Linked DNA regions of Homo sapiens: region 1 is linked to region 2. The links come from fine-mapping of genetic effects on gene expression. Tissue or cell type: whole blood. Region 2 holds a variant in brackets; the other region holds the start of a gene. All regions are shown on one strand. Distances are from middle to middle.

Region 1 (5,382 bases), 21 kb after region 2:
CTGAACTTGATCATAGTGAAGCAAAACACCCTGCAAAAGAAACTGTAACTAAACTCCTAGAAAAGCAATGACCACTTTCTCCTCTCCTATGATTCTGACTAGCGTGTGGGATGGGGTGAGGTATGCAGGTTATTTGCATAAAACAAGCAGCCAAGTGCATTCACTCATTTATTTGTTCGTGGAGTACCTAGCAAATGCAAGGTGCTCTGTTAAACACTATGGCAGACACAAAGATGAAACGGACAAGGATTTTGTCTTCAAAGGTTCTCTAGTAGGGACCCCACTATGCTCTCTTAATAGAGTAGGATTTGAGAACATGGGCCTAATGAGTTAGAAATCTAATTATCAGCCAGTGGCACCCAAACAAAAGATCATGGGGCTTAATCCTCAGAAGTAGGATACATCTCTACAATTGTCTACACAAACCAGCAGGCATCAGAAATGTTAATAGCATACCCCTTCACCTTTCTCTCTGCCTCCCTTCCCAGTCTCTCTCTTTTGTTCTTCGTGGATTTCATTATCATTGGAAAAATCATGAATTGCTGGATCACTTAGATGCATTAGTGTGCTCTTATGAAATCATTCCTGATGACAAAATTCTTTTAATCAGCTCCACTTTCAGATTTTCAGTATAGGCTTGTCCTTTAACAAGTAAGTTTTTTTTTTTTTTTCCAGAACAATATGGAGCAGGTATGGCAAAACAGAAATACAATATTCTTGGAAGTAGATTCGTTTGGATAATAATTAAACTTTCCTTTTTCTGTACTTGGACTTTATTCTTCTAGTAATTTCTTTGTCTACATTAAATTTTCAGGAAGATTGACGATATCATTCTTTTAAACTCTTTAAAAGACAGTCAAATTCTTGTTACATCTTTTCAGGTTTTGTATTTTATGTTTAGGAGCTGTTCATTTATATTTCCCCTCATCTTTTCTGGAATAGACTATCTCATTGCTTCCCACTGTGTTTTCCTAAATACCAGCAACTTGTTTTTCAACAAATAATCTTAACCCAACAACCAGCTCTCAAAGCTTTATAACATCTGGTAAATGCTAGTGCACAGGAACAAGGCAGAAAAGAATCTAAAGAAAGAATATGGGGCCGGGATCGGTGGCTCACGCCTGTAATTCCAGCACTTTGGGAGGCCGAGGTGGGCGGATCACCTGAGGTCAGCAGATTGAGACCAGCCTGGTCAACACGGTGAAACCCCGTGTCTACTAAAAATACAAAAAATCAGCCGGGCGTGGTGGCTTGTGCCTGTAATCCCAGACTTGGGAGGCTGAGACACGAGAATCGCTTGAATCCTGGAGGTGGAGGTTGCAGTGAGCTGACATCACATCACTGCACAGTGACTCCGTCTCAAAACAAAAAAACAAACAAAAAAAAGAAAGAATGTGGGCTTTGGAGTTGATCCAATCTGATGTCATGCAGGGCTCTACCAATACCTTCGTGACTCCGATAAATTAATCTTACCAGGGCATCAGTTTGCTTATCTGTAAAATGGGGATAAAATTCACACTTCAAGGTAATTATGAGGATTAAGTACAGTATAAGAAAGCAGAGAGCATGGTCCGTAATAGGCACTCTTTAACAATTTCCCTTTGCTTCCTCCGAAAAACGACAATCATAAAACTCAGGATTTAATCATTAAAACATAAATAGTTACAGATGCAAAACACTCATGTCCCAACGAGCTCTTCTGACACTTTGATATGCAGAATATTTGGCATTTCTTTCTTCTTAATGGAAAAATGCTCCTAATATTAGTAAAAATGAAAATTTTGGGGGAAAAATTATCCACAGTTTCTTTATCTGTGGATAAAGAAAATAGAAACAGCTGCTTCTATTTTTGTCACGGCCTGGCTTTTATACAAAACGGTCACATTTTCCCCACAGTCACAAACAGGGTGTGTTTATCATGGCATCACCTCTTTCAAGGGACTAATAGATTTATTCCAGGTGATAGTGGGAAGCAGCTACAGAAGGAGGATTGGAAGGCTGAGGGGTTGTTAAAGTTATCTGATGATATTGTTCGAACATTTCTCCGGCACAGAAACTCCACAAAGAACTCCTCTGCAGTTTTCGCTACCCAGGGCTGTTTCTTTAAATTGTTTGACGTCAGAGAAGGAATGCTATAGCAACAGTCTGTCAAACTGGAATTAACTCAGAAGAAAAATGGGGGTGGGGAGAGGAAAAATGCTCCCAGGCGGTACTGACTTCAGAGGAAGCAAATTGGATAGATGCATTTATTTTATGACATTTTAAACATAAAACACCCAGATAAATGTGAAAAAAAAAAAAACTCGATTGAGATGCATGTGGTGTTTAACTCATGCAGAGAAGAGCGACTTGGCAGGGATATCTGGAAGGCCTTCCAGTTTTATCAATGACAATAGGAACAATAACTTCCAAGTATTGGCCATTTATTTGGAGGCAGGCTTCGTGCAAACATCACTTCATTTAATATGCTTAGCACCTTTATGAGGCAGGTATCAGTATCTTTATTTTGGCGATGACGAAACTTAGGCCCGAGACGGTACACGGTCCTACAACTAGTGATGGAAGAGCGGGGACTGCAACGCAAGGTTGTGCAACTCTGGGCTTCAGTTTACTTTCTGACATTTAGAATTCCAGAATGGGAAACCTAAATGGGGCCTTTGGGGTCTTCTAGCTCTGCCCTTCGATCCTGCTAACAAGCAAACTGGCGCCTGTCAGCGCCGGAAAGGAAACTGGCCACGCCACTTAGACGGGCGCTACTTAGCAGCGTGCCCCGGCGCCACACCAACAAGAAAACGAAACTGCCCGGGAATGAATGTTTTTCTTCTCCTTCTGGCAGGAAACGAGAGAGAAAATAGGAAGCAGAAGCTGCGCGCGGCGCCCGCTCCCTTCGCCCCCCGCCCGGGCTGCGCGCGCTCCGAGGGTCTGCGCGTCCCCGGCACGTCCCCGCCGGGCCCGCGCGCCTCGTGCCTCGCGCCTCGCGCCTCCAGCCACGTCCCCGCCCCGGCTCCGGCGCGCCGCGGAGTTGGCTGCTGGGAGGTGCGGGACTGGGTGTGGCCGGCGGCTCTGGTCTCGGCTGTGAGCTGCGCTCTCCACGCCGGCTCCGCGCTCCAGGGGCTGCTGAGCGCCCAGCGGACACCGGCAGCGCGCGGTCGACGCGGGCCTGAGCTCCCTCCAGGTAGGCGGCGAGCTCGCGAGCGGCGGCTCGTCGGTGCGCCCCGCGAAGCGATCCCGGGCTTCTCGCAGGGACGTGGGGCGCCGCGAGCCACCCCTGCGGAACGGGGCCCGGGTGACGGCGCGGGGCGGGGCGGGTCTCCCCGGGCTCGGGCGGCCGACGCTGCCCGGGAGGGACGAGGAGGGCGCGCCTGTGTCGCGCCCAGCTGCCACGCGGGAACTGGCCCCACGACCGCCGGCGCAGGCACTTCCCGGGCGGTCCAGACCGCTCGCCCCGGGGAGCGAGGAACGGTCGGCGGTCCAAGTCCTGCAGACCCCCCTGGTTTCTCGTCACTCCCCGAGGCCTCCTTCCAGGAACTCAGAGCACGAGCCCGTGCGTGCCCCCAAAATAACGGGTATTCGGGACTGCCCAGCAGGGCTGTTGGGTGGAGAGTGCTTGGAAGACTCATAAAAGTTCTACGCTGAGTCCAAAATTAGTCCAATGGTTTTGTTTCAGATTTATTTTGGAAATGATATAATGTCCAGAGTTTGGGGATGGGAGGGGATTGATGAATTTTGAATACTTGTGAGTTCAGTACAATAAAAAGTGTTTTGCTTTTCTCTCCACCTTTTTCTGCTTCAGAACACAGATGATTGCCATATACTTTGATATGTATTGCTATTCGCTAAGGGAACGTTGAATTTTCAAAAGTTTGAAACCAGGCTTTCATTTGTTTATACAAGCAATACTTTGTTATTTTTCGTCTCCTTGTGTTCCCTTTTCTCCCACTCCTTCCCTTTCTCTTTCCATAAAGGATAAGGATGCATCTTTCTCCCTCTCAGCCACCGACAAAGTAGCTTGGCGTGTGGCTTAGCGGGAAGTTTTCTTAAAACGTTCAAAATTTAATTGTTGATTAGAACTTTTATTATGAGTCCGTCTCAGTGTTGCAAACAGAGTTTATGACCATTAAGTACATCTTCTAGGACAGAGACAGAACACACGCTACTTAATTTAAGATGGGAGGGAAGTTATTTCTAGTCGGAGAGGAGGACGGCTGATTAGGTGCATTCAAAATTGTGTGCTTCGAGTCTCTGCCATTGTTCATTTTAATACTCTTCAGTTTGGGGCTTTTGGTTTACTACTGATCCTAGGCTCTGAAAATTTACTGTATATTTCAGTATGTGGCTTAAAGACATTTTAAGATTTTCCATGTTGCATTTTGGTTTGTAGATGAATTTGAAACTGAAATAGAAACTTTTAAAATATCATCTTATTGAACGTTGTCAACCCTCTGTATATACATTTATAAAACTGATTGATACAGCTTGTGATATTTTAGGTTGGTTCAACTCTTTGTGGGCCCATAAACATTATTTAGGAAGTTATTCCGAGTCTTTGGCCTTTGTTAACCTGTAGAATTGTTTCTTTTAAACAATTGGCATGTAAGTATGTCAGCACATACTTTTACACTTTAAAAATAGACTCTGGGGCAATTTGAAAATTAAGAATTGGAACTAAGTGTTGGACATTCTTCTGGCCTTACCAAATACTGCCTGAGATGGTGTGATTTCTCTTAGGCATGTTATTGAAGTCAGCTGGCTGTATCATCAGTTTCTTTACCTTGCTGACTATTTTAATCTGCGTCTGTTATGGACTTATTTATTAAAATATCTCTTCTGGGCTGGGGCAGTGCTGTAAGTTATTCTACTTATATCTCACAGTAACACCATTATCTACTTCCACAGGTAAGGAAATTGTCTGTGAGGTTTTAAGTAACTTGGCAGTGGTCATGTAGGTGTTAGGTAACTCAACTGGGATTCGAAGCAAGACCCCTCTGTTTCCAAAGTCCATGTTCTTTCCCCTGAGCCATATTAACTTAGTTCGAGGGCATGAGGAGTGACCCTCAATTACTCATTAGCATGTGTGTAAAATATCCAAGACATGCCAGAAGCATGTTTGTTTTTCCAGCATGATCATTATTGTCTGTCCCATGTTTTTATACAGCTTCTCACATCAGCCATTCTCTTCTCACCACTCTACTCCTAGTTAAATGTCTTGTTCCAAGTTCAAAACCTCCCTTTTGCCAGGGCACAGTGTATCCTATTGATATTAATAGGTAGTGATGGCTTAATTATCTTGATAAAACAGTAACTCCATTTTAATGTGGGTTCTCTAGAGATAGAGTTATAACTAATTTGGAAGGTTACAAACAGGATTGCGGTCAATTTTGG
Region 2 (5,382 bases):
AGGTGGGACAAGTAACAGTTGATTAGGCCATGAGGGCTCTGCCCTCATAAATGGGTTAATGTCATTATTGCAGGAGTGTGTTCATTATCACTTGTGCAGACTGTTAGAAAAGCGAGTTCAGGGCCAGGCATGGTGGCTCATGCCTGTAATCCCAGCAATTTGCGAGGCTGAGGCGGGCAGATCACGAGGTCAAGAGATTGAGACCATCCTGGCCAACATGGTGAAACCCTGTCTTTACTAAAAATACAAAAAATTAGCCGGGTGTGGTGGCATGCACCTGTAGTCCCAGCTACTCAGGAGGCTGAGGCAGGAGAATCACTTGAACCCAGGAGGCAGAGATTGCAGTGAGCCGAGATCTCGCCATTGCATTCCAGCCTGGTGAGAGACTGAGACTCTGTCTCAAAAAAGTAAATAAACAAATAAAAAATAAATGAAATAAAATAAAATAAAAATGAAAATAAAAAAGCGAGTTTGGGCCAGGTGTGGTGGCTCACGCCTGTAATCCCAGCACTTTGGGAGGCCGAGGCGGGCAGATCACAAGGTCAGGAGATCAAGACTTTCCTGGCTAACATGGTGAAACCTGTCTGCAATTATAAAAATACAAAAAATTAGCCAGGCATGGTGGCACGTGCATGTAGTCCCAGCTACTTGGGAGGCTGAAGTTGGAGAACTGCTTGAACCCGGGAGGTGGAGGTTGCAGCGAGCTGAGATTGTGCCACTGCACTCAAGCCTGGGACAGAGCAAGACTCTGTCTCCAAAAAAATAAATAAATAATAAAAATAAAAATAAAATAAAGCGAGTTTGGCCCTCTCTGTCTCTGTCTCTTGCTCTCACCCTTGCTTGCCCTTCCACCTCCTGCCATTGGATGACACAGCTTGAAGGCCTTTGCCAAATTCAGGCCCCCTCGACCTTGAACTTCCCAGCATCCAGAATGATAAGGAATCGATTTTTTTTCTTTATACGGTACCCAGTCTTGAACCAAGTACAGTGGCTCATGCCTGTAATTCCAGCACTTTGGGAGGGCAAGGTGGAAGGATCACTTGAGCCTTGGAGTTTGAGGCTGCAGTGAGCTGTGATCACATCACTGCACTCCAGTGGGGATGACATATTGAGAACCTGTCTAAAAAAAGCAAAAAAAAAAAAAAAAAAAAAAAAGGACCCAGTCTGGGATTCTGTTACAGCAACACAAAACAGACTAAGACAGCTGTGGGCAACATGACTCCAGGTCACAGTACTCTAATGTGATACTTAACTGTAGACTCTTGCTACTTCAGTGCTGCAGTGCTTTCACTTTAGCAACTTAGCAAAAAATGTATTGTTTTCTCTATTTAAATCAGGTGTAAATCTCATCATCAAGAATTTGTGACTTGGCTGGGTGCAGTGGCTCTTGCCTGTAATCCCAGCACTTTGGGAGGCCAAGGCAGGCAGATCACTCAAGGGCAGGAGTTCAAGACCAGCCTGGCCAACATGGTAAAACCTCATCTCTACTAAAAATACAATAATTAGCCAGGCATGGTGGCGTGTGCCTGTAGTCCCAGCTACTGAGGAGGCTGAGGTAGGAGAATCGCTTGAACCCGGGAGGAGGAGGTTGCAGTGAGCTGAGACGTGCTACTGCACTCTAGCCTGGGAGACAGAGCAAGACTCCAACTAAAAAAAAAAGAATATGTGACTTAATTGAATATTATTATTATTATTTATCTTTTAGAGACAAGGTCTCACTCTGTCGCCTAGGGTGGAGTACAGTAGCACAATCATAGCTCACTAAGCCTTGAATTCCTGGGCTTGAGTGATCCTCCCACCTTGACCTCCCAAAGTGTTGGGATTACAGGCATGAGCCAATGCAGACTGGCCAATTATTACTTTTTTAAGCCTCAGTGTTGCAAACTGACGAAGCCAAACAAATCAAAAAGGACAGGGAAGAAGTCTTAATTTATATCAACCAAAAATCATCTTTTCTACCCTCTTTCTTCTCATCCTTTATACCCTCCAAGCCAAAGACAGTAATTGCCAGTGCTGGGTAATTTCATATAATAGAGAAGTGTAGCACAATTGCACTCTTGAACCGAAACTACAACCAAGTGGTTACATTTACATATTGATATTGCAGTAGAACTTATATAACAGGCTGGAATTTCTTTTCAAACATCTGTGACTCAGGGTAAACTACGGGAAGTTAGAAAAAAGTTATTTCCGTGTTTTCAAAATAGAGAAACAGAACGGTCTGTTGGATTTGCCTTTAGAATTGACACCACTTCCCAGCACTAATCTCAACTATAAGAGAAAAAACAAATTGGCTAGACATGGTAGCTCATTCCTGTAATCCCAGCACTTTGGGAGGCTGAGGTGGGAAGTTTGCTTGAGCCCAGGAGGTCAAGCCTTCATTGAGCTATTATCATGAAACTGCACTCCAGCCTGGGTGACAAAGTGAGACCTTGTCTCTAAAAAAAAATTAAATAAAAATAAAATAAAATAAATGAAATAATTCATAATTAAAAGTTGCTTCAGGAGGAAATTGGGTGAAGGGTACAAAGGACCGCTCTGTATTATCTTTGCAACTTCCTGTGAATCTATAATTATTCCAAAATCAAAAGTTTAAAAAAAAATTCCTTCAGTAAGAGAAATGGGCTTTTGACCTTGGAAAGAATTACCATTGTATGCTAGAATTTACTAGAAGAATAAGGGAAGGGATGTCTGTAGTCAGACTTTTGTCATTTTCTTTCAGTTTTTTTTGAGACAGAGTCTCACTCTGTTGCCCAGGCTGGAGTGCAGTGGCAGGATCTCGGCTCACTGCAACCTCCACCTCCTGGGTTCAAGCGATTCTCCTGCCTCAGCCTCCCGAGTAGCTGGGACTACAGGCGTGTGCCACCATGGCTGGCTAACTTTTTGTATTTTTAGTAGAGA[A/C]GGGGTTTCACTGTGTTAGCCAGGATGGTCTCGATCTCCTAACCTCGTGATCTGCCCGCCTTGGCCTCCCAAAGTGCTGGGATTACAGGCGTGAGCCACCGCGCCCGGCCAACTTTTGTCATTTTCAAAGAGTGAATTTGGTGTCCTTGGAGGGTCACTTAAATCAGTGGCAGTGAGTAGGAAAAAAGTGTTAGAATGCTCCATCAAAAGTATGCTCCCTTTTCCAACTCAAGACATAAAATCAGAAGCAATAATCAAGGAGTACCAACTATATATTTTGGTGTTACTTAAACGTTTTCTTTTAGTAATAGAAATAATAGCTGTTCATGGCCTGGTGTGGTGACTGAAGCCTGTAATCCCAGTACTTTGGGAGGCTGGTGCAGGCAGATCCCTTGAGTCCAGGAGTTTGAGACCAGCCTTAGCAAAATGGCAGAACCCTGTCTCTACAAAAAACTTGCCAGGTATAGTGACACACACCTATAGTCCCAGGTGCTCAGGAGGCTGAGATGGGAGGATCATTTGAGCCTGGGAGGTTGAGGCTGCAGTGAGCTGAGATCACACCACTGCATTCCAGCCTGGACAACAGAGCAAGACCCTGTCTCTTAAAAAAAAAAAAAAAAAGAAAGAAAGAAAAGGAAAGGAAAGGAAAGAAAAAGAAAAAGAAAAAATATGTGTTAATTATAAGAAAATTTGGTGAATATTGAAAATTATAAATTAATCCAATTTATCCATAATTTGAAACTGAGCAAAAACTAATGTTGATATTTTGGTATATTTTTTCAGTTATTATTGCTATATACATGTTTTTGTATAAAATTGGCATTAAAACTTTTTTCTTTACCTCTCTTTGAAAGGCACATACTTCATTTTCATTTTGTGAGTTTACCTTTACGTTTAGTGAGTTTTTCCCAAATAAAAAATAATATTTGTGACTGATTATGCCTCTATTATGTGGCTATATCATAATTTAATTAATCATATAATTATTGTATTTATAAATTTTCCCTAATATAAATAATTGGTACATACAAAATTTTCATTCATTAATCATTGTGTGCATCTTTAGGATCTAAGTCAAAGAGTTTTAATGCTCTTAGTACACACTGACAATTTGTCTTGCAGAAAGGGTGTACTAACCAAATATCTACTTTATTTAAAATTTAAAATTCTGCTACCTAAGTTCTCTCCATTTTGCCTCCTCAAAGTATATTTTTACATGCGCATCCCATAGCTCTTTTATATGAGAGGAATACTACTCACCTCAAAAAGTCAACTATGGGTGACTAGAAAATAACTTCTAATTACACTCATGCATTGCTTAACGATAGGGATACATTCTGAGAAATGCATCCTTAGATGATTTTGTCATTTTGCAAACATCATAGAAAGTACTTACACAAACCTAGATGGAGTAGCTTAGTACAACCTAGGCTGTAAGGTATGGCCTATTGCTCCTAGGCTACAAGCCTATACTGCATGGCACTGTACTAAATACTGTAGGCAATTATAACATAATGGTAAGTACGTGTGTATCTAAACATAGAAAAAGTACAATAAAAATACAGTATAAAATATTTAAAAATGGTATACATGTATAAGGCACTTACCATGAATGGGGCTTGCGGGACTGAAAGTTGCTCTGCTCTGGGTGAGTCAGTGAGTGGTGAGTGAATGTGAAAGCCTAGGACATTACTGTGCACTACTACAGACTTATAAACACTATACACTTAGGCTACGCTAAATTTATAAAAGTATTTCTTATTTCAATAATAAATTAAGCTTAGCTTGCTGATACTTTTTTTTTTTTTTTTTTGAGACGGAGTCTCGCTCTGTTGCCCAGGTTGGAGTGCAGTGGCGCGATCTCAACTCACTGCAAGCTCCGCCTCCTGGGTTCACTCCATTCTCCTGCCTCAGCCTGCCGAGTAGCTGGGACTACAGGCACCCACCACAACGCCCGGCTAATTTTATGTATTTTTGGTAGAGAGGGGGTTTCACAATGTTAGCCAGGATGGTCTCAATCTCCTGACCTCGTGATCCGCCCTCCTCAGTCTCCCAAAGTGCTGGGATTACAGGCGTAAGCCACGGCGCCCGGCCTACTGTAACTTTTTTACTTTGTATACTTTTAAATTATTTTTAAACTTTTTGACTCTTTTGTAGTAACACTTAGCTTAAAACGCAGACACACTGTACAGCTATATAAAAATATTTTCTTGCGGGCACGGTGATCGAGACCATCCTGGCTAACACGATAAAACCCCGTCTCTACTAAAACTACAAAAAATTAGCTGGAGCGGTGGCACGTGCCTGTAGTCCCAGCTACTTGGGAGGTTGAGGCAGGAGAATTGCTTGAACCCAGGAGGCAGAGGTTGCAGTGAGCAGAGATCGCGCCATTGCACTCCAGCCTAGGTGACAGAGTGAGGCTCCATTAAAAAAATTATATATATATATTTTTTTCTTTAATATATATATATTTTTTTCTTT

Evidence for each region. PIP is the estimated chance that this variant, and not a neighbour inherited with it, causes the effect.
Region 1: GNB4 starts here. The variant in region 2 is fine-mapped to the expression of GNB4 in whole blood (INTERVAL, PIP 0.99).

The regions. Positions count from the first base shown.
Region 1 is chr3:179,449,139-179,454,520 of GRCh38, reverse strand. It overlaps GNB4 (G protein subunit beta 4), which reads left to right and starts at 3,051. Exons shown (of 10, transcript NM_021629.4): 1 at 3,051-3,175. It also overlaps the pseudogene RPL29P34. RefSeq lists silencers at 2,881-3,030, 3,071-3,480.
Region 2 is chr3:179,470,511-179,475,892 of GRCh38, reverse strand. It overlaps a transcript of GNB4 not described here. Among named protein-coding and RNA genes, the nearest start is that of GNB4, 22 kb to the right of the region's middle. The variant A/C (reference allele first, on the strand shown) is at 2,902.